7 linked regions of the Homo sapiens genome follow. The protein of the gene in region 6 purifies or fractionates together with the protein of the main gene of each other region. This does not show direct contact. Each region holds a gene or a part of one and is shown on either strand. Other genes may lie near its edges.

Region 1 (4,307 bases), on a different chromosome or scaffold from region 6:
TGTCCCCGAGCCTGAAGAGCCACATACCTCTTCATTTGGGAACTGTCTTCCCTGTCCCCCCACCACTGGGACAATGCCACCACCTCCCGGCCAGTCTCCTGGCTTCCCGCTCTCAACCCCTTGCAGGCTGTTCGCTTTCCACTCAGCACTGGGGAACCTCTTTCTCTTTCTCCAGAATCTAATGTGATGCAGGTGGTCCCCAACTTTTAACAATTTTGTAACTTGGTGCAAAGGTGATGCACATTCAGCAGAAACTTTACTTCGAGTCCCATGCTTTTCCCTTTCAGTGCAGGATTCAATGAGTTACATGAGATAATCAGCACTGTATTCCACAATAGGCTTTGTGTTCAATGCTTTTGCCCAACTGTAGGCTAACACAAGTGTTCTGAGCACGTGAATCGGATGGCTTTACTCTCACCTCTGCTGGACCTTGGGCCACCTGCAGATCTGATGGAGGAAGGGGTACTGCCTCAACCCAAAATACGTCTTGCCTCGATGGCCCCGCCCACCTCTCTTGTCTCTTCTAGGTCCCTGAAGCTATCCGAAAATGCCAGCGTGCTGGCATCACAGTCCGCATGGTGACTGGGGACAACATCAACACGGCCCGGGCCATCGCAGCCAAATGCGGCATCATCCAGCCCGGGGAGGACTTCCTGTGCCTAGAAGGGAAGGAGTTCAACCGGCGGATCCGCAATGAGAAAGGCGAGGTAGCACCCGGCTGTCTGCCACCCCAGACCCCCCTTCTCCTCACCCCAGCCCCCTGCGTGCCCGCCTTAGCTCTGCAGCGTCCTTGTGCTTCCCCTCCCCAGATAGAACAGGAGCGGCTGGACAAGGTGTGGCCCAAGCTGAGGGTGCTGGCCCGGTCGTCTCCCACCGACAAGCACACACTGGTCAAAGGTAGCCGAGCCCCCACACCCCTTTCCTGGGGTGGCCAGCCCGAGGTTGTCTGCTTCCTGACACCAAAAGCCAGGTTCCCAAACAGGTCCCCAGGGCCTGCCTAGGAAGCTGGGTCCATTTGTCCCATTAGCCCAGAGCAGCAGGGCAGGGGCCCATGAGGGAACCAGGGTTCGGGGAGGGCTAGTGACTCACTCCAAGTCACACAGTGAGTCTCTAGAAGCAGTGGGTCTAGAGCCAGGGACCCAGGATTGTGTCCCCAGGCCCTAACCAGATCCCTATCCTCCCACCCTGGCCCTGTCACTCAGTGAGATTTGCTTACTTATTTGGGGATAGGAGATGATCCAGGTGACGGGGAGCACAGATAATTGGGACAGTCAGGACGGGGTAATCCCAAAGGGTTTTCACAGCCAACCTACCCCCATAGCTCCCTGGGCAGGGCTACACAGGGTTGTGGTGACAGATGGCCCCAGCCCTGCCCTGCCCTGATCTGTCTTCCAGGGATTATCGACAGCACCACTGGTGAGCAGCGGCAGGTGGTGGCTGTGACAGGGGATGGCACCAACGATGGGCCGGCCCTCAAGAAGGCGGACGTGGGCTTCGCCATGGTAAGCCACCTGGTGCCCGCCCAGCTCACCACGGCAGATGGGGCCTGCATCTGTCCCATGGACATTAGCTTTGTACCAGGAAGTGGGAGCCAGTGTCGGGGCAGGTTACAGAGTGCCTGAAGGTTCTTTCTTTCACATCCTGGCCACTTGGGCCTGCGTGGGCTCTGCCAGTCGGGGGACATGTGGTTAAAGGCATCTGCTGTGATGCCCAAGGTGACAGTGGGCCCCAGACATACTGTGGAGAGGAAGGGGAATGGGGGGTGGGGGCTCATCACTGATGGCATTGCCCACCCCCGTCCTCTCTAAATGGACTCTCAGCCCCAGATGAGGTGAGCAGAGTCCCCAGATGTGCTCTTCCTCTGCACTTCCTTCCTGTTGCTCACCCACTGAGCAGGGTAGCCCTGCAGACGCCACCCACATGGCTGGTTGCGGCCCCTCAGTGGCCCCACAGCCACTGAACGCAGCAACCTGGTGAGCCCCTCTCCCTGCCCTACCGAAAAGGAGTGTCACCCAGGGAACCCAGCCCAGTCCTTCCCAGCACCCGTAGCCCAGAAGGGAGCTCCAGCCCAAGCTTCGAGAGGTGGCAGCTCTCACGGGGCCAGGCTTGGGGCAGAGGAGAGGACTGCGCAGCTTGGCACAGCTGCAGCTGCGCCTCCATGGGACAGGGACTCCTCTGCAAGGAGCCGCCCCGCCCAGGGTGTCCCCATGCAGGACTTCCCAGGGCTCCTTAGCCAGCAAGCCTCTCTGGAGTGCTAAGAACAGACCACGCTGCTTGGTGGCCACGTGGTGGCAGCTGGGCTTTATGTGTAAAGCTGTGTTGATGCCATGTCATCAGCACCCTCTGTGTTTATGAGCAAAGCCCCCCCCCCCACCGTGACATGTGACAACTTACTGTTTGTAGTACAAGAATGTGTTGCATTAAAAAAAAGCAACAAAAAACAGTGCTGTTCTTGGCTTTGGGGGGCGGGGTGGGATGTTATTCAGAAGGGGAGAGCAGGGAGCCAGCCCAGGCGGGCCAGGTGATCAAGGGGGGCTGGGGAAGGGGCCCCCACAAACACTCTGTGTGAGTGTGTGTGTCACCCCCCCAGGGCATCGCAGGGACCGACGTGGCCAAGGAGGCCTCCGACATCATCCTGACCGATGACAACTTCACCAGCATCGTCAAGGCAGTCATGTGGGGCCGTAACGTCTATGACAGCATCTCCAAGTTCCTGCAGTTTCAACTGACGGTCAATGTGGTGGCTGTGATCGTGGCCTTCACAGGTGCCTGCATTACTCAGGTGGGTACTGGGGGCTGCCATGCCCCAGCTAGGACACCTGGGCTCAGGCCTGAGGGCCAGATTGTGAGAGTGAGGGTTTTGTTTTCTTTGCTGCAGATTATTTTAATTGAGATCAAATTCATATGCCAAAAATTCACCATTTTCAAGTACATAATTCAGCACTCGAATTTGTAGGACATTCACCACGTTGTGCAACCATTGGCTCTATCTAGTTCCAGAAGATTGTCATCATCTTAAAAAGAAACCCTGTGCTCTTGAGCAGTCATTTCCCCATTTCTCCCCCAAACATCCCAGCCCCCGGCAACCACTCACAGGCTTCCTGGGTCTATGGATTTGCCTGTTCCGGACATTTCATTCCTATGGGATCAAATAATATGTGGCCTCTTGTGTCTGGCATCTCGCTTAGCACCGTGTTTTCAGGCTCACACACACCGTAGCATAGGGCAGGACTTTCTGCCTTTTCATGGCCTCATAACACTCCACGGCACAGACTGCCACATTATGTATGTCTGCCCTGATGGACACATGGCTCGTTCCCACTTTTTGGCTCTTGTGAATGGTGCTGCCAGGAGCATCTGTGTATGAGTTTCTGCGTGGGCTATGCGTCCCATGGGAACCCTTTCTCAACAGTCCCATTTTCCCCATTGGTGAGTGTCCAGATTTTCTTCACCCCGCCTTAGAAAGGGGGTGTTTAAATTGCCTGCTGATCAACTTGGTCTTTTCAAAACAATTTTTTAAATTGAGATAAAAAATCACATAACAAACTTCAACAGAACCATTTTAACCTTTTGAAAGTACATAACTCCGAGGTTTATATCCCTCCACTGTCTATTCCCAGAACATTCTCATCACCCCAAAAGGACACCCAGACCCCGTGAGCAGTCACTCTCTACTCCCCAAACCCCAGCCCCTGGCACCCACTCATCTGCTTTCTCTCTCTATGGATTTGTCAGTTCTGGAAGTTTCCTATGAATGGAATCAGACAGTACGTGGCCTTGTGTGTCTGGCTTCTGTGAGGCTGATTTTTAACGAACAACTCAGAGGAGCTGAGAAGGAAGGTCCAGTTCAGAGTTTCTGCCTCCTCCTGCCCCTGAGGTGCAGGAGACAAGGAGAGCAGCCCTCACTCTGTTGCCCCAAATGGCAGACCCCATCGTCGGGCTGTTTTGTGGTCTGGGGTTTTTCACCTCCTGCGAGGGATTTGGAGCACACCTGCTGCCAGGTGAGAGAAGGGAGGCGGGCACGTGACAGCCCAAAGAAAACGCCCCACTAGCGTAAAGGCGATGTAGGGATGGAGATGTCTGTTTTCATGGGCATGAAATCCTGGTGATGTGGACCCCATGAGGAGCCCCCAGGAGCTACTGGGTTTCCACCCCCAACCTTCCCGGGCAGGCGGCCCATGGAAAGGTGACTGCCTCCTCTCCATAGGACTCTCCTCTCAAAGCCGTGCAGATGTTGTGGGTGAACTTGATCATGGACACATTTGCCTCTCTGGCCCTGGCGACGGAGCCACCCACAGAGTCGCTGC
Region 2 (4,307 bases), on a different chromosome or scaffold from region 6:
ATCTATTTCTCAGAATCTCTTTTTAGCCAAGATGCCAGCCAGTCAGGGTCTTTAACATGAGGCTAGGGCACTGGTTCTCAACCAGGGGAGATTCCCACCCCGCTCGTGCCCCTTGGACATTTGGCAGTGTCTGGAGACATTTCTGGTTGTCAGCACTGCCGCAATGCTACGGGCATGTAGGGGGCAGAAGCCGGGGATGCTGCCAAACATCTTCCAACAAATAGGACACCCCCCTGCCACAAAGCATTATCAAGCCCCAAATATCAATAGTACTGAGTTGAGAAACTGGGTTGGAGGAACCTGCACTCATCATCTACAAACTCTGAAAAAGTTCCATGATCCCAGCCAAGATCCCTTCCCTTAGGTTTAAGGAAGTTGGTGACAGGAAGCACTCTTTCCTGAATTCCAGAATATTGCAATTAAATACTTTTACACCTAAGGTTGAGTACTTAAGTGGATTTGGGGGAATACAGTCATTGTCAATGGTACTTAATTTATATACCTAGATTAAAAACAAACTTTAAAAAAGTCACACTTCTGTAGCCAGGGGATGAAATCAAATAATCAATTGACTTCAGAGTACCTGACAGTTCTTCACCAGTCACTGTGTAACTTAACAATGATAAGACACAGGTTTTCTAGCATTGTTTATATTCCAAGTACTTACCAAAGATAAAACATTTGGAAAAGTGAAAAATGTTTTCAAATTTGGTTGAAAAGTTTTAAACAGTTGGAACTCAGAGGCATTGCTTTTCCCTTAGATCAGTGAGAAATGAAAGCTGCTTGTAATACTAAATTCAGCACTCACGAGACAGTCTCTGGGATTTCATCTTCCTTTTTGAAGCGACCTGACCATATGAGGATCTTTTTCTGCCAATCCGTAGGTTTGTGTAAAGGCACTCTGTTGTAAGTGCCTATGAGAAAAACCAGACAAGAAATTTTATGTGTTTGAGATTATAACTCTCAAATTTAACAACAGAAAAATGGTATTAGTGCTTTTTAACTAGTCACTAAACAGAAACACTGAGAAACCTCAAGTTAATTAGAACTTTATTTGAATGGAATTTCTTAGGATGCTTCATTTTCCAAATAAGATTATAAAATCCCAAGGAAACGGTGAGGAGCTTGTCTGACTTCAGCAGACTAAGAAAAAGTTTGTAAGGTACAATCAGATTTTACCAGATCTTGAATGTCAGGCTAAGGGGTTTAGACTTGATTGGGAACTACTGTACATTTTGAAACAAGGAAGAAACTAATGTTTTAGGAAGGCTTATTATCTGTACAATGGATGGAGACAGAAAAGGGGGACACGGTAGAGTGGGCAAAAAGTCCAAATGGGAGCCTGTAATACCATGGTGAGCGGATATTCTCTGAACCAGAGTTGTCGCAGTGGAAAGAGAGATGAGGTCAGTCTGAGGATGACTGAAAGAATGTGGAGACTGGTTAAGACAAAGAGGAAGGAGTCACGAAGAACCTCAAACTTGGATGACTAAGACAACAGCAGTATTGTAACTAAAAGAAGACGGGAAAAGACCCAGTTGGGGAAGGAAAGAGCATGAATACTACTTAAAGATTTGCTGACTCTGAAGGGAATATATGCCATCTGAGTCATTTCATTAATAAGTCGGGAATAGAGATAAAAATCAGTGCAAAGGGAGAGCCAGTGAGGGTGATAAGGAGAAGGCCCTGCTTATATTTTACCTAACGCATAATATCTTAATTTGGTTCATCTTTAGAGTTCTTTAAAACATAATTTCTGGACTACTATTTACTTTGGTGCATCCATTCTCCTACAGAAAGCTCCAGTCCAACCCTACAGGCAAGAAGATGAAAATGACAAATGCTGAAAATGAAGAAACCACTGTGCATGTGCCCATGACCAATATTAATACAACATGGGAGGTCTGCTGTAGGAACATGGGCCTACGTATGAGTAAAACATGAGAAGTGTGACGTAGGAAGATGGGCCTGCATATGAGTAAAACATGGGAGGTATGATGTAGGAACATGGGCCTACGTATGAGTAAAACATGAGAAGTGTGATGTAGGAAGATGGGCCTGCATATGAGTAAAACATGGGAGGTATGATGTAGGAACATGGGCCTCCCTCAGGCCTCCCATGTTGTGCTCATATTGGTCATGTGCACATGCACAATGTGAACACAATGTGTTCTCTCTACATGGGAGGGTATGATATAGGAACCTCTTCTCTTTTGGGTTCTTTTGATTCCAAGTTTTCCTACTCTTTGGGAGCTACCAACTCCATAAATAGAAAAAATAAAAACTTACGGGATGGAGCTCCGGGACTTTCCTGTGGTTTTGTGCAAAATCCATTTATTCTCTTCAAATCAGAGCTTCTGGTAAGCCTTAGAGATGAGGAAACATCTCTTTCACATAACCTAAAACAGCTTCCTAAAAAAGAGAGGAAAATGTTTCAAAGAAAGAAAGAAAGAAAATGTGATGTTTTCTCAAAATAAGAAATACCCGCAAGTTACGTTTCATTTATAAAAGGTAGTTCATTTAGGAAATGAATTTACTATATGTAAGATACACATAGTATATTTAAAGTGCTATGCTTGATGCTGTTTTAAAATATAAATGTTTTATTGATTAGGAAATTAGGAATTTACAACATAAAAATGTTATCAGCTGTAAATTTTAAATAAGTACTTCCCACATGTGTCTTATCATAACAATGGCTCTGGTGGCAATATTATGTATTATGGCATCAGGGCTGTTTAAGTAAAGATTAGTAACCTCCCAAAAGTGATAAACTAGGTAACCAAGTTGCCAATACGATGCTGATAAACTGGTTAGGGGGCTGCAGTGGTCAGCAAGTGACTCTAGAAAGCCTTGCTCCTTGCAAGCCACAAGTCCTTAATTAGAAATCAATTTTAGATGTAGTTTTGAACTACATATAACTTTAAAACTATATATATAATATATATAGTTTATTTTAAAAATTTAAACTCAAAGCACAGATAGTAGCATTACGAACCCCTATATACTCATCACCCATTTTCAACAATGATCGCTATATGGCTAATAAATACCATTTAACCTCTATAAAAACCCTGGAAGACAACCTAGGCAATACCATTCTGGACATAGGAATGGGCAAAGATTTCATGATGAAGATGCCAAAAGCAACTGCAACAAAAGCAAAAATGGACAAATGGGATCTAATAAATTTAACTTTTACTGTGCAGAAACTAAACAGGTTCTGCACAGCAAAAGAAACTATCAACAAACAGACAACTTATAGAATGAGACAAAATTTTTGCAAACTATGCATCTGACAAAGGTCTATATCCAGCTCTATAAGGAACTTAAACAAATTATCAAGAAAAAAAACACCAGCCCATTAAAAGGTGGGCAAAGGACGTGAGCAGACACTTTTCAAAAGAAGACATACGTGCAGCCAACAGGCATACAGAAGAAAAAGTAACATCACTGATCACTAGAGAAATGCACATCAAAACCACAATGCAATACCATCTCACAACCAGCCAGAATGGCTATTTTTTTTTTTTAGATATATACTATTTTAATCAGACTATACTTCCAACATTTCACAGATGAAATTATAATCACCTGAGCTTTTAAAAAATAAAAATTAGGCACAAATACACTTACTCATAATTGCACTGGCAAACAGTTCTTATAAGATACTTAAATCTTTGCGAAGAGATAGCCCCCTTCTTTTCCCACGTGCTCTCAAGTCAAGCCTGATCTCTCTCCCTGTCACCCATAAAATCTCACTTATGTTCCATTAACCAGGATCACATGAACCAACCTGAAAGAAAAGGAGTTCTCTGTCTATATAATCATGTTGGCAAAATAAATCGACATATGTTTAACAAAAGCACACAAAATAAGAGATACAATCAGGTGAATATTATAAGTCATTCTTTCATCATTAACATAAAATTGTAATTCTACTTTTGTAAATTTTATCAACAGACTCTCAAATGCCACACTTGATATATACATATAATAATAAGAAAAAATAAATGAAAAATGCATTTTCAGATATATTAAAGAAAATCACTGTTTTATGAAAAATAAGCAAAGCAGCATTACAGTTATTACTCAACTTTCAAAAGGTTACACAAGACTCTTGCTGGCAAATATTAGGATAAGACATTTTCATAGAAATATCTTAAGTATATATGGAAAACAAAACATATTTAAGATATTAAGATATAAGATGTATTTATGATTTAAAATAATCTCTACACAATTATTCTGCACATCACGAGAATATTCAAGACTCTATTGACTTTCTCCCCAATGAACATCTCTAT
Region 3 (4,307 bases), on a different chromosome or scaffold from region 6:
AAACTGGCCTGCCCTCCACCTACTCAACCTTTGGAGGCTCCAGGGGTCTCCTGGCTAGACTTCTATCCCCAGGAAAGTTACCACCCAGGGGTCTCCAGAGAACTCATTACTTCCTCTTCACAAGCACAGAGACCCTTTCCTCCTTTCCTGCCCCTTCCTTCCAGGACGCTGACCTTTATGGCGTCGTACACCAGAGCCTGCAGCAACAGCGTCTGCCCAGTTCCAGCAGGGGGCAGCAGGGCCCGGGTCAGAGCCGGCCGGGGGCCTGCCTGGGGCAGCTCACAGCCTGCCCAGGAACCAGCCCAGCTCAGCCCGCTTGGTTGAGCCCAGGAGATCTGCACGGGGGAAAGAAGGGGACAGTAAGGGGCACGACCAGGATTGGCTGGGAGAGGGAAGCCCGGGGGAGGGAATTGGGATGGGCCGCGGGGGAGCAGGGTCCAGACTGTCACCCGCTGCTCTCTCCCTCTCCAAGGCTCTGGGGAGGAGCATCGAAAGGGCTCAGAGTCAGCGGGGTAATCTGAGGATGAGTCCTCCTGCAGAGGAGCGGAACACCAGACGCTCTGCAAAGCCCGCGGTGTCCGAGCCAGGCGGGGAGAGGGTGAGGGAGGACGGGTCGGAGTTGGGTGGGATGTGCCGCCCCTGCCAGCATGAAAGGGACCAGCCCAGCGAAGGCCTCACCTTATCCTGGTCCCAGTCCCACTTGGCCACAGCCAAGCCGACTGGCCTCTTCTCCCCACACGGGGATGTCTGGGTCTCAGAGGTCTCCCCAGCTCCAGGGATGAGGAGGGAGCTGGGTGTTCTGGCTACCCTGGGTCACCTGCTGGGAGGCCCTTTCCTTCGTGAGAACCAAGCTGACCTATTCCGCCGGGATATGGAGGCCCATGTGCTTCCCTGACAGCCAACCATTCCGTGGAGGAGGGAGAGAGGCCCTAGCGTCCGCAGCCGGCTCCGAAGAGGAGGTAGAGCCATGCTCGCATAGCCACGCGTTGTGCTCTGTCGCCCCCTGGTGTCCTATTTAGAAAAGAGCCGCAATGTGGGGCTCTGACTTACCTTTCTTTTGGAGTGACTCCGGCCTTCAGAAACACCGCCACCCATAAGGCTGTGCACTTCAGCCCTGTCCTCCACGTCTGAGGGTGGCGGGGACCAGTCCTGGGGATGGGGGTGCACAAGGGACTCCAATTCATGGGCAGCTGGGGGGCTGGGGGGGCCAAGCCGAGCTCTGGAGTACAGCGCGGGATTCCCGGGGGTGGCGGTGGAGGACAGGCCTGGGAGGGATTCCCTGGAAGGGAAGACGGAAAACAAGGCATAGCGGTCAGAGTAAGGGGTCAGGCGGGGCTGGGATCTGGTCCAGCCTATGTCTCTGGGGAGGTTCCTGCCCATCTCTGGGATTTGCTTTCCTGGTCTGTGCAATGAGTAAGAAAAACTGCTATTGTTCAAAACAGCCTGATGCTGTAAACAGGGCTCTTCTTCCCTTGGCTGCAGGCATCTGGAGATTTGGGGCCCCTCTTTCCAAGATGCTGGCAGCTACAGAGGAAGTGGGAGTGAGGCAGTTCTGTTGGCCTTGCTGAGGAGGGTAGGCTGGGGCTCCCCTAAGTCCACTCCCCATTCTCAGGAGGACATCATCCCTGATTCCTTCATCCCAGAGTCCTGACTTTAACGGGGCTCCTGGGAGTGCCAAGGGCAAGTCATGGCCACTTTCCCTGATGGCCCATTCTGCAGCCCTTCCTGGAAGTCTCCCTTCCCTGAAGTCAGACTGGCTCCCCTGCTCACCTGTGGGGGCTGCGGCGCAGGCCAGCACACATGCAGGCCAGGAGGCAGAGGAGGCCCAGGCAGACACCCACGATGATGCCCGTGACTGAGTGCATGTCCAGCGAGTCTGGTGGGGGAGAGAGAGGCACAGAGCAGGTCAGGACAGAGGAAGGGCACAGGGCATAGATCAGGACTATCCATGGCTTTCTCAGGAGACACCAGCTGGACCCTCACCCTTCAGATGCTCACAATCTTCTGATACAAGGACAGGAGGGCCCTGAGCCTCACAGAAACTACTACTACCTCTCCCTCTGACTGTCCTCCCTAAAACACACCCAGAAGTTATGGTCTCTCTGCCTCAAACTGGCCTTTGGTGAAGCACGTGTTGCCTGCTCCCAGGGCTGTTGCATGGGTGTGCAACATGTGCAGGTGCGCAGACCCCATGCTTGGATGGACCCCACGCTTGAGTTCATGCTCTGCTGTCACCACCTTAAAATTCTAATTTTTTTTCTTTTGAGACAGGGTCTTGCTCTGTCACCCAGGCCGGAGTGCAGTGGCATGAACACGGCTCGCTGTAGCATCAACCTCCTGGGCTCAAGTGATCCTCCCACCTCAGCCTCCCAAGCAGCTGTGACCACAGGCATGAGCTACCACACCCAGATAATTTTTAAATTTTTTGTGGAGACAGGGTCTCACCATGTTGTCCAGGCTGGTCTCCAACTCCTGGCCTCAAGTGATCCTCTCACCTCAGCCTTCCAAAGTGCATAAGCACTTTGGATTACAAGCACAAGCCACCATGCCCGACCTCTAGCTTTTTTTGTTTTTGTTTTTGTTTTTGAGACGGAGTCTCGCTCTGTTGCCCAGGCTGGAGTGCAGTGGCATGATCTCGGCTCACTGCAAGCTCCTCCTCCCGGGTTCACGCCATTCTCCTGCCTCAGCCTCCTGAGTAGTTGGGACTACAGGCATCCACCACCACGCCCAGCTAATTTTTTTTTGTATTTTTAGTAGAGACAGAGTTTCACCGTGTTAGCCAGGATGGTCTCGATCTCCTGACATCATGATCCGCCCGCACCTTGGCCTCCCAAAGTGCTGGGATTACAGGCATAAGCCACCGCGCCTGGCCGTCCGACCTCTAATTTTTAAAATAAGGGATAGCACCTTTTCATTCTGCACTGGGCCCTGGAAATTACGTAGCCAGTCCTGCTGTCCACCTCCACACCATAAAGCTCATCACCTCACCAAGTTAATCCTCCAATCAAAGCAATTTCCCAAAGAAACTGGTCTCTAAAGCCAGTCCCAGCTGGATGCAGTGGCTCACACCTGTAATCCCAGCACTTTGGGAGGACGAGGTGGGTGGATCACCTGAGGTAAGGAGTTTGAGACCAGCCTGGCCAATGTGGTGAAAACCCGTCTTTACTAAAAAATACAATAATTGGCTGGGCATGGTGGCTCACGCCTGTAATCCCAGCACTTTAGGGGGCCAAGGTAGGCAGATCACGAGGTCAGGAGTTTGAGACCAGCCTGGCCAACATGGTGAAATCCTGTCTCTACTAAAAATACAAAAATTAGCCGGGCATGGTGGTGTGTGCCTGTAATCCCAGCTATTTGGGAGGCTGAGGCAGCAGAATCGCTTGAACCTGGGAGGCGGAGGTTGCAGTGAGCCGAGATTGCGCCATTGCACTCTAGCCTGGGCAACAAGAGTGAAACTCCATCTCAGAAAAAAAAAAAAAAAGCCAGTCCCCCACGAACCTGGCCTCTGAATCAAGTTATCACTGAACCACACCTATTTCCCCTTCACATTTGCTCTGCCCCCACCAAACCTGGAGGACAGCTGTGCAAAACAATGAAATTGTAGTTGTGTCCACAGGCAGGGGCTTGGAAGTCAATCCAGGGAAACCTGGGCTGCCCTGTGCTCATACCTGACAGCTTCTCCTGGAGCGTGATCACATCCTGCAGGCGGGAGAAAGGCCCAGGTCCCACCTCTGTGCGCGCCCCCATCTTGAAGAAGTACCGAGTGTCGCTCTCCAGGCCATGGACCTCAGCACTGAAGATGTTTCCTGGGGGTGAGGGAGGCAGGGAGAGCAGGGATGGTGGATGGGGTGGGTGGATGCAGAGGTGGGCAGGGAGGGGACTGGGAGAGTCTGCTCTCCACTTAGGCAGCAGCTTCTGCTTGCTTCTCCCAGTAGCCCCTGGAACAAACCCCAGCACTGTTCTCACTGCTGGAAGCGGGAGAGGCTGGGAAGCTCTTGAGCAGATGCCCTGGGGCAGGAGCCCTCACCCTGCGTGGTGAGCAAGGTCCACTGGTGCTCAGGCTGCGTGTGGTTGCTGCTGTACAGGATCAGATACTCCACGATCTCCCCGTTGGGCTCTGTGGGGGGGCACCAGTGCAGCCGAACCGTGGACGGTGTCAGGGGGCTCAGTCGCAGGTCGGATGGGGGTGTGGAGGGCCCTGGGGTGCGGGAGAGGAGATGGGGAGAGATGTCAGAGCTGGGGGACAGAGCATGATGATATGACCTCCCTTCTTCCTCCTTCATGGAACAAGCCACAAAGCAAAGATG
Region 4 (3,582 bases), on a different chromosome or scaffold from region 6:
CACCTCAGTCTCCTGAGTAACTGGGACTACAGGTGTGCACCACCACACTCGGCTGATTTTTGTATTTTCGGTAGAGACAGGGTTCACCATGTTGCCCAGGCCAGTCTTGAACTCTTTAGGTCAAGTGACCTACCTGCCTCGGCCACCCTCCCAAAGTGCTGGGATTAAAGGTGTGACTCACTGCGCCCAGCCATGATAGACTTTCTTACCTCTCGTTCTGGTCACCTCTTACTCCAGATACATTTATGTAATCTGCTTGCTCTCTTGAATTTGTTATGGAACTAAATATGTGAGTGCAGAACTTGCAATGAATGGATGAACCATAGACTAATATGAATCAAAGGCTGCTATTAAATTCTTAGGTTAAAAAAATAACTTCTTGGCCAGGTCTGGTGGCTCAGGCCTGTAATCCCAGCACTTTTCTAGGAGCCTGGGGCAGGAGGATTGCTACAGTGAGCCATGATCATGTCATTGCACTCCAGCCTGGGCAACAGGGTAAGATCTCATTTCAAAAAAAAAGCCACCCCCTAAAACAAACCTCGTTTGGAAATTCCGAATGTGCCTCAGAATTTATCATCCACTATGTTCTTCCTTAGCCACTGTAAGCTACCTCAGAGTACCCAGCCAGGAAGTTTGAAGGTGGCTTTTGATTTCTAATTAGGATATTCAGACTCCAGCATCTCAACAGAAAATATGCAGAGACATTTTATCAACTTGTGACATACCAGGGGTACATGAATATTCAGGGCTCCACACTACTATATAATGCTGCATTTCTTGGTTTTATTTGAAACAGTGCATATTTTTAGCATTTTATGGTAGGATTTTACACTTGTCATTTACACAAATTACAAGGTTCTGCTTCAAGTTTTTAAAAAAAATTTAAAAATTCAGCCCATGTGCAGCACAAGAATATGCAAAACTACTTTACATTATACACACTTTTTATCAAAGGAGATACAAAATTCTGGCTTGTTGTTTTAGACAAATACAAGAAGCTTCAAACTAGACACAAAGGGTTAACATTAATTCTCAAATATAAGTCTGCACTTTTGTGTTGTAGTTCTCTGAGATGTGAATACCAAATTCCTAAGGGATTTTAATGTTTTCCTTTGAAAAGGAAAACTAAAAAAATTCCCGTAAACAAGTCCCTCCCCATCAGCTTGGTCTTTCCACAACCCTACTCTTGCTTCCCTTAGTGCCAGACACTTGCATCATGTTACAAAATTGGGGTGGGCCACTTACATCATACAAGGAGCAAATCCTTTTAACTTCTCTCCTGCAAAAATCTAAACAGGAATATATTGATGCAGATGGTTCTGCTACATTTTATTTAATATGATGTAACACTTGGTAATCTAGTAAACTGTGATGCCGGGCAATTAATCAAAGGGAGGAAGAGACAAAGGTCCCTATCAATGCACTTTTTGTTGGTGACACACTGGAAACCTTAGGAATCAAGTTGTCTGATGCTAAGAGAACTTTAAACTCTCTCTAAATAGAACACACCTACTGATTGCTTGAGGGACTTCTCTGATACTTATGCATAGATACTCTTTTTCAGCATGTTGGAGGCAATATTTTATACTTTCTAAAGGGTTCTGAAGAGGCAATAAGGAAGAGTGGGGATTTTTCTGCCCCTGTAAAGGTATCATTTTCTATCATTGGTATCCATTGTTCCCTAAGCATCTTCTGATACCTAAATGTGTGTAAATGCATATTTAAAATAATTACCCATCTTTCAGTCAATACACAGCCAACTCTTGATTATCTATGAGAAACGTAAGTGACATTTACTCTCAAACTTCACTCTAACAGAATCATCCACCTTTGATACACTTGTTTGTTTTACATCCCATGTACACTACAGCCTATCAAGACGAAGTTATAACACAAATGTTGTTTCCTCTGACCCATGCTAGAAACGTGTAAGGAAATGGAGTGAGCACATTCTGCTAGGGCTTTGCGGATGACCCTACAGTGGACAGTGGGGGCAGGATAGAACTCTGGACATGAGAAAAGACAAATTTCATGTTCCTCCAGAATCAGGTCTTACATGCCTTCGTTATTTTGTTATCACAAAATTAAAAACCTGAGGCTTAGTCACTATTTTATATAGATAATGGAGAGTTGACTGTAATCATGTTATGACTTTAGCTCTTTAACATGAAAAAATTCACAAGAAAGCATATGATAAAAAGATTAAAAAGACTGCCATGACATCTAGAAGCATTTATTTTATGCAAAAAACTTAAATATGATTATGTGTACACATAAAGTGCACACATTACCTATGCTGAACAATGCCAAGAAACATAATATATTGATGCAACAGTTTTCTAAAATAAACATAAAAATGAGCCCAGACCATCAGACAAAAGCAAAACACTTATTTCCAAATAGCACAATGCTGAAAATTGATAGCAATCCTAAAACACCTCCAACTTTCCTTAAAAGCTGCCAAAGTCCAACTATTTTTTAAAAATTGATTTTTTTTACATTAATAAAAATCTGGTGACAAACATTATAAAACCAAATGCTGGACAGTCTTTACTCCTTTAAAATTCCAAATATTCCAACATAATCACAGGAGTAAAAACCATTTTAAAGTGATATGCTTTATGAAACAAACAACAATATGTACATTTATTGCAAATTATATTAAACTAAAATGAGGGGAAATCAAAATATGAACTGTTTACTACTTGCAAATCAATAATTTTAATTTTCTCACTCTGATAAAAATCAGAAAGCAACATTTATAAAATTGCTACCACATCACTTTTCATAGCAGGGAACCGAAATCTGTACATCTCATTTTTGCAGAAAAGTAGGCAGGCAGAAAGAATTATACATAAAAGTTTCCAAAAGGAAAAACAAAGAAATATTTAATCTGATCTCTTTTCTTTTAAAAAATTAATTCAGTAGACTTCTATTTTTTCCTGTGTAACATGGGAATTCCTGGCTCTAAAATGGATGAATTTTCAGTGTCAGTGTAAAGACATCTTGTTACTTTCTTTAAAATAAAAACTGCAGCGTGGAAATTAATGGTGTATTACGCATTTAAACTCCAGATAGGCAGGAACTGGAACCAAGTGTTAAGCAATTTGCTTAATTATTGACTTTTCGTAAGAAAAGTCTAGGGGAAGGGGGAGAACAGAGTTGCTTTTAGCCTCTCTCTCAAGAGTTTCTGCTGTACATTTCCATCAGAGGACTTGTGGTCATGTGAAAAGGAAGTAATAGTCTCTTTAGTTTTCAAGGCAGAGAGTGTGTGTTCTGAAGTGAGCTTCATTTTCTGTTCAGGGACATTTGTGAATCCAAGTTTTTGCAGAAGCTGGAGCCTGCTTCTGTTTGGCCTTCATTTTCTCCCTTTGCAAATGCATTTTTACCTTAGGGTTAAGAATAGAACGCAAAGTTAGAAAAGATGTGGAGAAGATATAAACCAAACGAAAATGATTTCATTTCCATAGTTGTTATCTAAAATCTTTTTTTTTTTTTTTAAACTTAAGCATCAGGATCTCACTCTGTCACTCAGGCTGAAGTACAGTGGCACGATCATGGCTCACTCAGCCCCAACTCCTG
Region 5 (4,307 bases), on a different chromosome or scaffold from region 6:
TGGATAAAAAGATGGATCAACAGATGGAAGGATGCATGGATGGGTAGATTGAACAGAAGGATGGATGGACGGGCAGATGGAAGGATGAACGAATGGCTGGATGGAAGGATGAATGGATGGTGGAAAGGTGGGCATATGGGTGAAGCATGGATGGGTGGATGGTTAGATGGTTGGATGGATGGAAAGTAGATGGATGGATGGCTCAACAGACCTCTGAAACCTCAGAGACTCTTGTCAGACCCTGTTGTTCCACTGGAAAAGATGCTTCCTGTTTTATAGGATGGGCTCCCTGGGCAGATTCAGGCCTGCAGCCTGCCACGTCCAGAGGCTCTGTGACTGCCCAGCCCCCACCTGCAGCCCTGAAGAAGGCGCATCCTTCCTGCCTGGCTGTTGTCTGTCTCTGCTGTCCTTCCCTTCCCGCAGCAGGAAGCACTGTCATCCTGGCCTCTGCTGCGCTCCCCCTGCCTTCCTGTTCCTGGCCCGGGAACTGGCTTCTTCCTTCCCTGAGGCCCCGCAAAGCCCTGGCTCCCAAGCCTGCAGCAGCGTGGTTGGGGCAGGCACCGGGTGGAGGTCAGAAAGGCCAGAATGCATACCTCCTCTTCTCTGTACTGTCAGCAGCCCCAGGACACCCTCCGTCCTCGGGCCACGGGGCCTTGGCGTCAGCCACAGGCGTGGCGGGCGTGGGAGCAGCACAGGAGGGTCCTGCACCTCCCCTGGGCAGTGCTGGCACCCCTCCATGAGGGCCAGGCAGGGTGGGGGAACGTCCCATGGGTTAGGCACTAGCAGCGAGCGAGGTGGGGGGCAGCCGGCCGGCTGCGACTGCCTCATTTGATCCTCACAGCAGCCTGGGAGGGAGGGCTCAACAGCCAGGTCAGCGAGTGAGGAAACTGAGGCGCCAGGCCTCACAGCAGCAGGTGGCCACGTGGGAGCCCAGTCTGGCTGAGTCCAGGTCGGTCCCTGCCCCAGGACCAGGCTCCCCTCCAAAGGCCGGGGGCAGAGGCTCAGGCCAGACCCCAGCCCGGCCTTCCTCCTAGCCCCTAGCATGAAGCCTCAGAGACCCCTGCAGGCAGGAAGGCCCACGTAGGAGGCACATGGCTGCCTGGGCCCTGTGCCCCAGTGGCCTCCACCACACCCCTCCTTGGGGCCTGGCCTCCATCTGGCTTCATGCCCTAGTTGGCTGAGGGCAAAGCCCTTTAAGCTAATGATGCCGTTTTTTTCAAAAGCTTCTTTCCTGAAAACGGAGGGAAAACCCAGCCCAGCCCAGTGAGAGCTGCTGGGAGAGCCAGCCTTGCTTTCCTCCCATGATGTGGGAGTCGGCCCCTCCCTCGGCTCCACACCTGCGTGTCCTGCGTCCCTTGTTCTGTACAGAACCCATATTTTCTCATCAAATCCTCTCTGGGCCCACCAGGATGGGACTGAGATGGGCTGGCTGTGCCATACCCTGGTGGGACAGGGTCCCGGCCCTCTCTACGGGGCAGTGTGGGTGAGCGCTGGCCTTAGCTGGTTTCTGGGAGCTGCTCTCCGAATGATGGCTGAGTCCACAGGGCATGGCTGGGTCCAGGTCCTGGTGCAGAGGTGAAGGGGCCGGCATGAGAGATTGAGGGTAGAACTAGCTGCATCCTCGCAGCCCTGCCCTCGCCTTGCCATCTCTCTCAACCATCACCCTGAGCACCAGCCTCCCAGGCCCCTGCTCTCCAGCAGGCTCCTCCCTGCCCGGTTGGGCTGTGTCCTCTGTCCTCCCTCGTCCTCTGTGCCCGGCAAACTGCTGCCCCCAGCTGAGCATGTCATCCCCACTCTGGCCTTGACCCACAGCACGTGGAGGGTCCGAGTCATCAAGCGGCTCCTGGGCCGGGGTGTCATCAGCCCATGGCTCTGTCCCCAGGCCCAACACAGCCGGCACAGGGATGGCACTGGGATTATCCATCAGCTTGGGGCCCCTCCACATTGGCAGAGAGCATGGCCCTGCGGTGGCCACCCTGGGCCTGGCCCTACTTCTCCCTCTCCCTGGGGTGCTTGGGAAGACGGGGACTGTGTGGCAGGCCTGCCAGCTGGACACACACTTTCTGGGCAGCTGAGCCCAGGAGGACAAAGGCAGCCAGAAGCCAGGCTGCAGACTGGAGGGAGCTGGCGGGGAGCAACGGAGCTGCTGGCTGAGCTGGGGTTGGGCAGAGGGGGTCACCTGCACCCTCTCTTCACTCCTGGGGCCAGGCCTCTGCAGGGACCTGGGGGGAGGCAGCAGGAGCGTCCTGTCTGGTGGCCCCTGCTAACCTGGCCAGCAGCCCCTGTGCCTTCAGAGCTTAAGGGGCTGTCGGTCCTCACTGCACATCCTGCAGGTCTGAGAGAGCTGAGCCCGCATGCCCGGCTGGGCACCCCGCACTGCCGCTCTTTGCTGTATGGTCTTGGGCAAATCACTTCCTCTCTCCAAGCCCCAGTCTTCCCACTTGTGAGATGTGGATTGGCCCTAGGATGACTGGGAACTACAGACCACAAACAACATGGTTAAGAATAAACTGTCGGCTGGGCACAGTGGCTCACGCCTGTAATCACAGCACTTTGGGAGGCCAAGGTGGGCGGATCAGGAGGTCAAGAGATTGAGACCATCCTGGCCAACATGGTGAAACCCCATCTCTACTAAAAATACAAAAATTAGCCCAGTGTGGTGGCGGGCGCCTGCAGTCCCAGCTACTCGAGAGGCTGAGGCAGGAGAATGGCGTGAACCTGAGAGGCAGAGCTTGCAGTGGGCCGAGATCGCGCCACTGCACTCCAGCTTGGGCGACAGAGTGAGACTCTGTGTGAAAAAAAAAAAAAAAAGAATAAGCTGTCTCTGGCTCATGCACACGGATCCCTCTGCTCTCACCTGCCTCCTGAATGCTTGGTTTGCTACAGCTGCTGTATCACTGTGACCCTGTGTTGTCGTCAGAGCATGGGGGCCTCGCTGGTGGGAGAGGATTCATGTGAGCTGAAAGGGGCATTGTAGACTGATTAGGAGCTTGCTGGCCCAGGAGGCGGGCACACAGGCCAGAGTGCCGGTGACTTTGGGCCCTCAAGTAGATGGAGCAGATGGAGCATGGTAAAGGTGATGAGGCCGTGGAAGCAGGCCCAGGTCCCCAGCCGGCCTCGGGCCCTGTCCTGCTCGCTGGATGTACTCTCTCTCTCGATGGTGGCACACCGGGGGGCTTCAACCCCACTCTGTGCTCTCACCCTCCCTGACAGCTCTCCTGGGCTCCAGTCCTGGAGGACCCCAGACCTCGAGCCCAGCCCACATCCAACACTGGGTAGGATGACTGGAAGCACGGAGCTCACAACTGTGCACCCGCCAGAGGAGCAAGTACCACAAAGAATGAGAATTCCCAGCGCTGGAGAGAATGTGGAGAAGGAGGCACCCACACAGTAATGATAAACAGCATCCATACACCGATGGCAAATTCTCCAAATTCTCCTTTCCCAAGACCTCCTGCTGCAACAGCAGCAAGCGTGCACCGAGCACTGTCCATGTGAAGCACAGCCCTACGCATGTGTGCATTCCACATGCCTTCACACCCCTGCGGTTGCCTCCGTATTGCCACTGTACAGATAGAAAGCTAGCACACAGAGGTTAACGCATTCCAAAACACATGACCGTTAAGATATTGTCTTGGGAAGACAGGATTAAGGGAAGCTACTATTCATTCTACAGATGTCTGTATAATTTGCATTTCTGCATTTTACAAAATGTAATCATCTCTTCCATCAGCGTGGGAAACCCTGCTCTCCCTCCCACTAGGTTGGCTGTCCAGGTGATGCTCACCCACCAGACATTCCTGACCCCGCTCATCCCCCACAGCCAATCGGTCACCAAGTGCCTCCATTCTGAGCTGAAATGGGCTTTGCAGACTGAGTAGGAGCGGGCCCAAGAGGAGGGCACTGTGGGTGGGGTGGCTGAGAGTGCCAGGCCCCTGCCCCCACCTCTCCTCACCATCCTGACAGCAGCTTGGCGTGGATGCTTTCTGGCCGCAGAACCCCTCCCGGGCATTGCAGGCGTGCTGTCCCTCCACTTTCCCTCCTCCCCTCCCCGCTGCTGGCCAGCCTCAATGGCTCTCCCCCCGGGTGGCAATACCAGTGTCTCCCACTGGCCCAGTCCTTGCTCAGGGGTCAGATGATCTTTCTAGAACACAAGTCCCTCTCCTGCCTAAAACCATCCCCTGCCCCTTTGCTGCTTATGGACAGAATCTGGTGCCTCCTTGGCCTCCTTGCCACCCACCCGGTGCGGCTCCAGACCTCCACGTGCCCTAGATCTGGAACAGCCCCTCCCCACCTCTGACGTCTGA
Region 6 (4,896 bases):
TGTGACATCCTGTCCTACCACTCTATGTGCAAAATTACTTATACCAGAGGGGCAAAGAAGCAATTCTCAATCTAATTCATTTTGCAAATTTGACAGTGACATCAAAGAGCAGGAAGTTGTCTGTGAGTAACGACACTACTCGTTTGTTTAAATGTCAAACCTAAACCTCATCAACTTTCAGGCAGTATGTCAGAAAAGAATGCATTTCAGTTCAACCAGAGAGGATTTCAGTGTTATTCAGTCCTGAGGAAAATAGCTGTCAGTTTCTTTAAGGCAGAGTGCTTTGAGTAAATCTTTCTTTTTAGGCTGAATGGAATTGGCCATTTCAGCACTTGGGGCTGTGGACAGTGCTATCTTCCTTGACATTATGAAACAAGTAGCCTTACTGTAGAGGTGTTTCCTTCTTGAAACTAAAACTCCCCAGGCTAGCAAACATGTATCCCTAAACTATGCAATTAGGATATGGAGACTATTCACTACAAGGTCTATGCAAGGTAAAAATGCAATAACAACAAAGAAGAGCACATTTTACCACAAAGATTCAGCCGAAAATTAAAATAAGGAAGGCAAATAGTTACTATTGATAGCTATTCATAAAAAAATTACTGCTTCTCTGGAAAGGTTTTTGGTGAAGAGAATGACAGTGCCATTAATCCCTCATTGTACTTTATTGGCAGTGGGCGTTGATGCAGAGGAGAACAGGAACACATCTAATAAACTTGCAGACAATCAGGAGCAGAGAATCTATTCTCTATATGCTTTTTAGCTCTAGAGTGGAATAACAATGGAGAATTCTGGATCTGAGGTCAGAAAAAATGGAACTGAATTTAAATTATGTCCCTTAATACGTCATTTTATTTCTCTAAGTCTTGTTTCTTCTTCTGGCTAATGTGGGTTATTTTGATATTTAAGGGAGAGAATGTACATGAAGGGCTCTGGCACACAGTAGGTACTCAATATATGTTCAATTTTGATTATTCACTTATCAATAAGTGTTGGCATAATGCAGTAAAATGTTGCTATGCTGGTAGCCATGTGTCTTAAGAGATGTAATCCTAAGGATGGGTAACAAGAAGAAGGAAAGCAAGATTAGGATTATTATCAACAGAATTATGCTTATAACAAGAATCCTAATCTTGTGTATTTCCACTTTTGTTTCATTTTGTTAGTATCCCAAAAAGATTTCCTTTATTTTTACTTTTAAATCAACCAAAGGAAAACAGTCTAAAAATAATATTTAAAAATGTACTAAAGTTCTCAGAGGTTTCTTGTCTCCTCAAATAACATTCTACCAACACTCTGGAGAACTCCTGTCATTCACATACTATCATCTATTCTGCCTGCTGAGTTGGTGAGAGACTACTCGGGATGATTTCTACCCAGACCAACACACTTGGGAGAGAAGGCAAAAATCAGGTTAGTCTGAAAGCCTGATAATTTCCTTGTCAGTCCCCATTGCAGCTACAAGTTCTTTGCTTTTGACTGCAAAGCCTCCCAGCCTATCTCACCTCACTCACCTTCTTCTTCTTTTATAAATGAAAATCAAGAGCAACTCCTAGCCTCCTCCATCTCCTGTCATTTTCAGCAGAGACTTCCTCCACACTGCCCTCTGCATGTGAAAAGTCTCCCAGCCTTCTACTCTTCATTCATCAAGGTACACTCTCCTTCCATTCACAATTTATTTCAAGTTATCCCTCCCTTCCAAAGCCCCTTTTCTGGAGGTATATTCCCCAACTGCCCTAATACATTCCATCATCGCACTCACCATGTTGCCATCTCACCCCCTCCCCAACCCTCAGAAATTGTTTAGGGGGAGGGGGATGAGGGGTCGAGGAAACCCGTGTTTGCATACAGACCTAGACCGGGACAAATAGCCTAGCATTAAGCTTAGTCTCATCTTTGGAGAAAACAAAACAAAACAAAACAACAACAAACAGTTGACATGAATAATTCCTGAGCCTGGCAACAAGCAGACTGAAAAAAAAAAATATTTGGCTGAATGGATGTAAGAATGAATGGATGGATGGATGATTGAGATCTCTGTGGTACTTTTCTCCGATGCCCCTCCTTCTTGCTCCAGGCATGGATCCTGTTTAATTCAGCTTCTATGAGTGAGTGCACTTCCCTGCTTTGCCTCCGTCTCCACTCCCTGCTGGTTCATTACCACCTCTTGACTGGAGACTAAACCTCCTCGCCAAAGGGCAATGCCACCTAGCTCACAAATGCTTTGTGACTTCCACAGCCACAGAGAGCTTGCTCCTTAGGGATGTAGCTTTGTATTCTGCAAGCTCTGTCTCGTCCCAACCCCCCTGAAACACCCAGCCACGTTACACAAAGGGATGACTGACTCCCCCACCTACCCACCCACACACACACACACTCAACAAAATCCACCTGGAGATCCCTGCCGCGGCCCCTCTCCCTGCGCTTGTAATCTAGGTGCTCGAAAAAGAAACGCGGTTTCCCCGTTATTCCTGCAAAACAGGGAATAACCTTTCCAGGGCTCGGTCCCGGTTCGGAAAATCAGAAAACTTTCTATTATTATTATTATTTTATTAGAAAACCCCATCCGAGAGCAGCGACCTCTTTGTTTGCTTCCCGGGGGAGGGAGGGGTCTCTTTAGAGCCTTCTCAGCCCGGGGCGGAGAGGGGGTGATAGCCCCTAGGAGGGCTGCCCGGGAGGAGACTCACCCAGGACGTTCCCAATGAGAGCCACGACGAACACGATGATGTACCCGGCGATCAGGACCCACTCATATTCTTTCGGGTGCAGGTATTCCCTCCACAGGTACCGCAGGAATTCCTCGTCGTCATAGTCGGTGGGGTTTAAAAAGGGCTCTTGAGTTTCATTCAGCTCCGAAGCAGATGACCAGTTGCGACAAGGGGGGGAGTCCTCCAATTTGGTGCCGGACATCACGGGCTCAAGTCCGGTTCCGCTCAATGCTGCAAGCTCCTCTCCGCCTGCCCCATGAGCACTGGTGATTTGCGGTGGGAAAGGCTGCGCGGAGAGGCTAGAAGGGGCTCCCGAGCAGAAAATGACGTGAAAAGTTACTGAGCCAATGCCTCCGGAGTCTTCTGCCGGGCAACTTCTGCGGTGGCTTTGCTGTCTTTACAGGCGATGTTGCACCGGGAAGATAGGCAGCTGAGGAACTAGGGACCCGGCACTGGAGGCTGCAGCAATGACACCAGGAGGAGAAAGCTACGTCCGGCTCAGCTGAAGCTCAATTACTCCTCATTCCAGCACTCAGTCCGCAGCCCACAGCCTCCTCCCTCGCTGAGGGAGAGCTGAAGCTGAAGAAAAAAAAAAAAGTAATGAAAACTAATTTAATCTGTTTTTTTGGGGGGTGGGGGGTGAGAGTTAAATCTCTCTCTTTTTCTACTTATTTTCTCTATTTTTACGTGCACTTATTATAAACCATGCACAGACATGCATCAGTCTGTGGATATGACAAAAATGTCAACATACAATTAATACAGAGCATGTTGATACATTTGTCTTTGTAAAGCAAATATAAAAGCAATAAGGAGGTGCCTCTGTGTTTCTCAAGCAGGACAATGGAAAAGTCATTCCAGGCAAACACTTTAACATTTAATATAAACTTATTTTAACATTTGACATTTGCCAACTTAGTACTTGCCGAGTCTTTAAGACATCTCCGTCTTCACTTTCTCCTTAAAATTTGAGAATGAGACTGTTTTTAAACTGAAGGGTCTATTTAGCTGGAATTTGTATTTGCGATAGTTAAGTGTCATGTGAAATAGAGCTACAAATTCTTGAAGGACGCCAAGTGTCATAAATATGATCATAGTTAATGTTGTCAAGCATGACAGACCACCAATATACTCAATGATATTAAACATTCACTGTAGGATGTAGCAATCTAAGCAGAAGTGCTCTCTCTGGTAAATACCACATCCCATTGGGTCTTTCTTCCCATTGATTCAGGGCTGATGTCACCTGCCATTCTCTCATGCACTGGTTTTGTCTCTAATAATAAGTATTCTAGCATTTGTCAGAATGTGAATTCATGATCCTTTTATTCTTAATAAACATGGTAAAAATATTGCATTTAAGTAATTACAATCTTGCACTTGGGAAGAGCCTGGAAATCTTGTCTGAACTTCAGCTTCAGAGTAGAAGCCTCCTGATAACATTGCTGACATGTCCCCATCTAGCTTGAATGTGACCACCACAATTCACTACTTCCATCCTTATGGGAGTGCTCTAAGGGTGAGAAAACTGTTTCTTACATTAAACCAAGGTCTCAAGCCACGATTTGTCTTTTTGAGACTTTTACCTCTAATTCCTAGTTTGCATCTTGGTGCTACACAGAATAAATCTTCCACATGACAATGCTTCACAGATTCAAAATAAACATCACAGCCCCAGCGCTCCTTTATATGCCCTCATGTTTCTTTTTTAGTATTTTTCTTTTCAATGTTGTTCAAATGACAGTAGCTCCCACCTACATCTGTTTGGTCTTCCTTTAGACAATTGTCAATATCTTGCAAAATATGTAACTGGGAGGAAGTAACAATAATATGGTTTGAGTCTTGCCAGTGCAAAAAGTACATTATTCTTTGGATGCAACCAGTTTTTATATGTAATTATTTTTTCAACACACACAAGACATTGGTGGTTTACACTGAGATTTAGTTAACTACCCCACCCCCTCCTCCAATCATAATTTTTCATATTTGTTTTGTGCTTTATGGTTTATAAAATTATTTCATATGCATTTTTAAACCCCTGAGGGCTTAGCTATTACTAACCCCCTTTAATAGATGAGGAAGCTGTTCCTGGGGAAATTAGATGATTTACGAAAGATAAATGGATTAATCAGCAGCAAAACCATCTGTTCTTTCTTCTATTTATAGAATACTTTTTGGGACATAG
Region 7 (3,047 bases), on a different chromosome or scaffold from region 6:
GCCTCTTTCCTAAGAGCTTATCTAAGTGGGAAATGATAACACCACTCCCACGATTCATTTACTGTCCTCCTTCCATATTTTCCTTCACATCCTCTTGTGGCTTCATATTAACCATATGTAGCCCATCTCTAATTCAATTAACTATTTGAGTTAATTCAGTTAAATGTGTTCCTCATGCTGAGCTAGGTCCTAAGGCTATGTAAAAGTAGTGTGGTACAGACAGTCCCCTACTTACGATGGTTTGACAAGACTTTTTGACTTTATGACAGTGTGAAAGCAATACGCATTCAGCACGCTCCTTGGCTTATCCTGAGGTTAGTCTCAATAAACTCATAGTAAGTTGAAAATATTAAGTTGAAAGTATGTTTTTCAACTTTAACAATATTTTTAACTTATAATGGGTTTGTTGGGACATAATCCCACCATAAAGTCAAGGAGCATCTGCACTAGCTCACTTACTGGAAACGTCACCTCCACCACACACAAGAGTACTGAGGGAGAGGGGAGAAGCTTCTAAGGAGCCAAACTAATGTCATCAAAAAATTTCATGCATTAAACTCATACACTTTACTCAAAATAGAATGCTTTAAAGCTTTCTAATGGCCTGAGTCCAATGAGTTTGATAATCTCATTGACCATAACAGTTTAGAAAGAACCATACAGGAGCATGGGGAGGCGGCAGAGTGTTGAGATATGCAGTATCTCCATGCAGTAGCCCAAGTGAAATAAAGTGAAGCTTTATTTCAAAGAATGTGGAGTTTTTGTTTTTTCTCTTTCCAATCAGTCTTTAGCACATTCCAACCTCTTGTACTGACTCACCTTTATGTTACCTTCTGCTGAACCTGTGGTAAAATATTCCTCATAGGGATCCAAGGCCAGAGCCTTAATAGCTGAGTCATGGGCCTGGAACGTGTGAATGAGCTGCCTTTGCCTGATGTCAAAAATGCAGACGTGTCCTTTCCTACCCCCCGAGATTAGGAGTTGCTGTTTGGGTGCATACTGCAGTACCGTGGCACCATGATCGTGGCACGTGAAACCTGAAGAAGAAAAACATCAGAGAATTTCTCAAAACAATTTCTTGTCTTGGTAATTATGATGTCTACATCCACATTTAAATACAGACCTTACTGATGCATTTTTCATTCTAAGGTACATTTATTGTTTTGTAAGTCATTGAATTTCTGTAATCACATGATTAAAGAAAAATGTTAAGCAATGTCAGAACAAACTTTTTATCCATAATCTCAATATGAAATGAACACAGAGAGAAAAAGAAAGTTTAAACCTTAAGCCCTAAGTGATACTGCCTCATAAAAAGTATACAGAAGAGCAGAGACCAACCTTCTCAAAGTTGGTGAGTATTAACCCAGCCAAGTGCTGTACCGTACAAAAAGTTCTTTTCAGGTAAGTAATTGAAACAACGACACTATGAGAAAATGTGTGAATGTTTTCAGTTACAAGTTAAGAAGTTCATTATCCTTCCCAGGAGTATTTGCATTTTAATATGATTAAAGATTCAAATTAACATGCAGAAAATCTGTAAGCAATGTTAACCACTGTTTGCAGAATTCTGCAATAAAATTGAGAATTAACTACATATTTCAAAATGCATATCAGTGTATTAAAAGACTGAGAATCTTTCTGTCTTTCTGACAATCTACTTCATTTAACCAAACTTACTTGAGCATGGAGCACTTTTTGGGTGGTACTATGTGGAAGACAGAGTTAGGACACTAATTTGGCAAGTATTGTCTTAAAAGGAATAATATTTAAATGGCACTGTTTACATTTCTAGTCATTATAATAAGGTTAACCTTTGTTTTATTTTATGGTTAGGGCCAGGTGTGGTGGCTCATGCTTGTAATCCCAGTACTTAGGGAGGTAGAGGTGGGAGGATAGCTTGACCCTAGGAGCTTGAGACCTGCCTGAGCAATACAGCATGACCTTGATCTCCACAAAAAGGAAAAAAAGACAAAAAGTATTTTATGATGAGGTTTAATTCTTTAAAATATGTTATTTTCTATTAAGCTCAATGAATACTTTGCAACTAATTTCTTAAATAGCCTTGTTAGTAGTACCACTATCCATACCATATTTTCTGAATAGAATATAAAGACTATTTTGGATTTCTGAGACCATATATCTTTAACTCAGCAAGGAAGCCAGATATGCTAATTAACTTTCCAAATTTTTAGTCATTCATTCTAAATATTTCTCCATTTTCAACCTGTCAATAAACACTCACTGGATTCACTAATTAAAACCAAGAAAGCATTCCTTCATGGTGTATTATTCCTTCATGGTATATTTTTAAAAATCATAGACCTTAACTCACCATGAATGAGGCTGTTTCCGGGTGATATTAATGTGTCCCAGAGGCAAACATTTCTTTTAAAGAAACACAATAACAAAAATACATCATAAATGATTGTTATAAGTCGTCATCAGGGACAACCTGTCTTTCAGTCAAATATTTTGCTTATTCATTCTTATCTTTTTTGTTCACTCACACCTATAGAGAGTAGTGATTCCCAACTAGGATGGGGGTAGGGTCAAACTACACAGTTCCATCTCACATGGTCCTGCCCGTCTCTGCATCCTCTACCCCATCTCCTTTCCATTGCCACTCCAGGAAACTGATATGACTTCCTGAGTATAAGGAATGCTTTTATATCCCCAGGTGGTAGCCACTGCAGGGAAACAAGATGTTATTCATGGGCATGTGTTGCTAATGAAAACCATGTGAGGTCAAAATAAATGTTGAGAATGATGGGGACAGTGTCAAATACCTGTTAGTCCCTGAATCCTCATCTCTCACCTTATACAAAAATTAACTCAAGATGGGTCAAACTTAAATCTAACACTTGAAACCATAAAAATTCTAGAAGATAACATCAAAAAAAACTACTCTAGACATTGACTTAAAGAATTCATGACCAAGAACCCAAAGGCAAATGCAACAAAAATAAATAAATGGGACCTAATTAAACTAAAACACTTCTGCACAGCAAGAGTAAAAAGGCAACCTGCAGAGTGGGAGAAAATAC

What was found.
Region 1: the proteins of HCRTR2 (region 6) and ATP2B3 purify together in Homo sapiens (affinity purification with mass spectrometry; one large-scale study listed by BioGRID and IntAct). This does not show direct contact.
Region 2: the proteins of HCRTR2 (region 6) and FAM162A purify together in Homo sapiens (affinity purification with mass spectrometry; one large-scale study listed by BioGRID and IntAct). This does not show direct contact.
Region 3: the proteins of HCRTR2 (region 6) and IGDCC4 purify together in Homo sapiens (affinity purification with mass spectrometry; one large-scale study listed by BioGRID and IntAct). This does not show direct contact.
Region 4: the proteins of HCRTR2 (region 6) and PDS5A purify together in Homo sapiens (affinity purification with mass spectrometry; one large-scale study listed by BioGRID and IntAct). This does not show direct contact.
Region 5: the proteins of HCRTR2 (region 6) and FLT4 purify together in Homo sapiens (affinity purification with mass spectrometry; one large-scale study listed by BioGRID and IntAct). This does not show direct contact.
Region 7: the proteins of HCRTR2 (region 6) and DMXL2 purify together in Homo sapiens (affinity purification with mass spectrometry; one large-scale study listed by BioGRID and IntAct). This does not show direct contact.

What each region holds. Positions count from the first base shown.
Region 1 is NC_000023.11:153,555,522-153,559,828, forward strand, and holds part of ATP2B3 (plasma membrane calcium-transporting ATPase 3), read left to right. Parts: intron 1-527; coding exon 528-707; intron 708-809; coding exon 810-897; intron 898-1,395; coding exon 1,396-1,502; intron 1,503-2,590; coding exon 2,591-2,782; intron 2,783-4,207; coding exon 4,208-4,307. UniProt on the Homo sapiens protein: ATP-driven Ca(2+) ion pump involved in the maintenance of basal intracellular Ca(2+) levels at the presynaptic terminals. Uses ATP as an energy source to transport cytosolic Ca(2+) ions across the plasma membrane to the extracellular compartment.
Region 2 is NC_000003.12:122,400,865-122,405,171, reverse strand, and holds part of FAM162A (protein FAM162A), read right to left. Parts: intron 2,413-4,307; coding exon 2,290-2,412; intron 915-2,289; coding exon 809-914; intron 1-808. UniProt on the Homo sapiens protein: Proposed to be involved in regulation of apoptosis; the exact mechanism may differ between cell types/tissues.
Region 3 is NC_000015.10:65,384,781-65,389,087, forward strand, and holds part of IGDCC4 (immunoglobulin superfamily DCC subclass member 4 precursor), read right to left. Parts: intron 4,199-4,307; coding exon 4,028-4,198; intron 3,807-4,027; coding exon 3,669-3,806; intron 1,877-3,668; coding exon 1,771-1,876; intron 1,280-1,770; coding exon 1,051-1,279; intron 336-1,050; coding exon 174-335; intron 1-173.
Region 4 is NC_000004.12:39,822,100-39,825,681, forward strand, and holds the end of PDS5A (sister chromatid cohesion protein PDS5 homolog A), read right to left. Parts: intron 3,390-3,582; coding exon 3,386-3,389; 3' UTR 764-3,385; downstream 1-763. UniProt on the Homo sapiens protein: Probable regulator of sister chromatid cohesion in mitosis which may stabilize cohesin complex association with chromatin. May couple sister chromatid cohesion during mitosis to DNA replication.
Region 5 is NC_000005.10:180,639,412-180,643,718, forward strand, and holds part of FLT4 (vascular endothelial growth factor receptor 3 isoform 1 precursor), read right to left. Parts: intron 1-4,307. UniProt on the Homo sapiens protein: Tyrosine-protein kinase that acts as a cell-surface receptor for VEGFC and VEGFD, and plays an essential role in adult lymphangiogenesis and in the development of the vascular network and the cardiovascular system during embryonic development.
Region 6 is NC_000006.12:55,172,605-55,177,500, reverse strand, and holds the start of HCRTR2 (orexin receptor type 2), read right to left. Parts: upstream 2,987-4,896; 5' UTR 2,914-2,986; coding exon 2,691-2,913; intron 1-2,690. UniProt on the Homo sapiens protein: Nonselective, high-affinity receptor for both orexin-A and orexin-B neuropeptides. Triggers an increase in cytoplasmic Ca(2+) levels in response to orexin-A binding.
Region 7 is NC_000015.10:51,449,310-51,452,356, forward strand, and holds part of DMXL2 (dmX-like protein 2), read right to left. Parts: intron 2,389-3,047; coding exon 2,336-2,388; intron 1,038-2,335; coding exon 820-1,037; intron 1-819. UniProt on the Homo sapiens protein: May serve as a scaffold protein for MADD and RAB3GA on synaptic vesicles. Plays a role in the brain as a key controller of neuronal and endocrine homeostatic processes.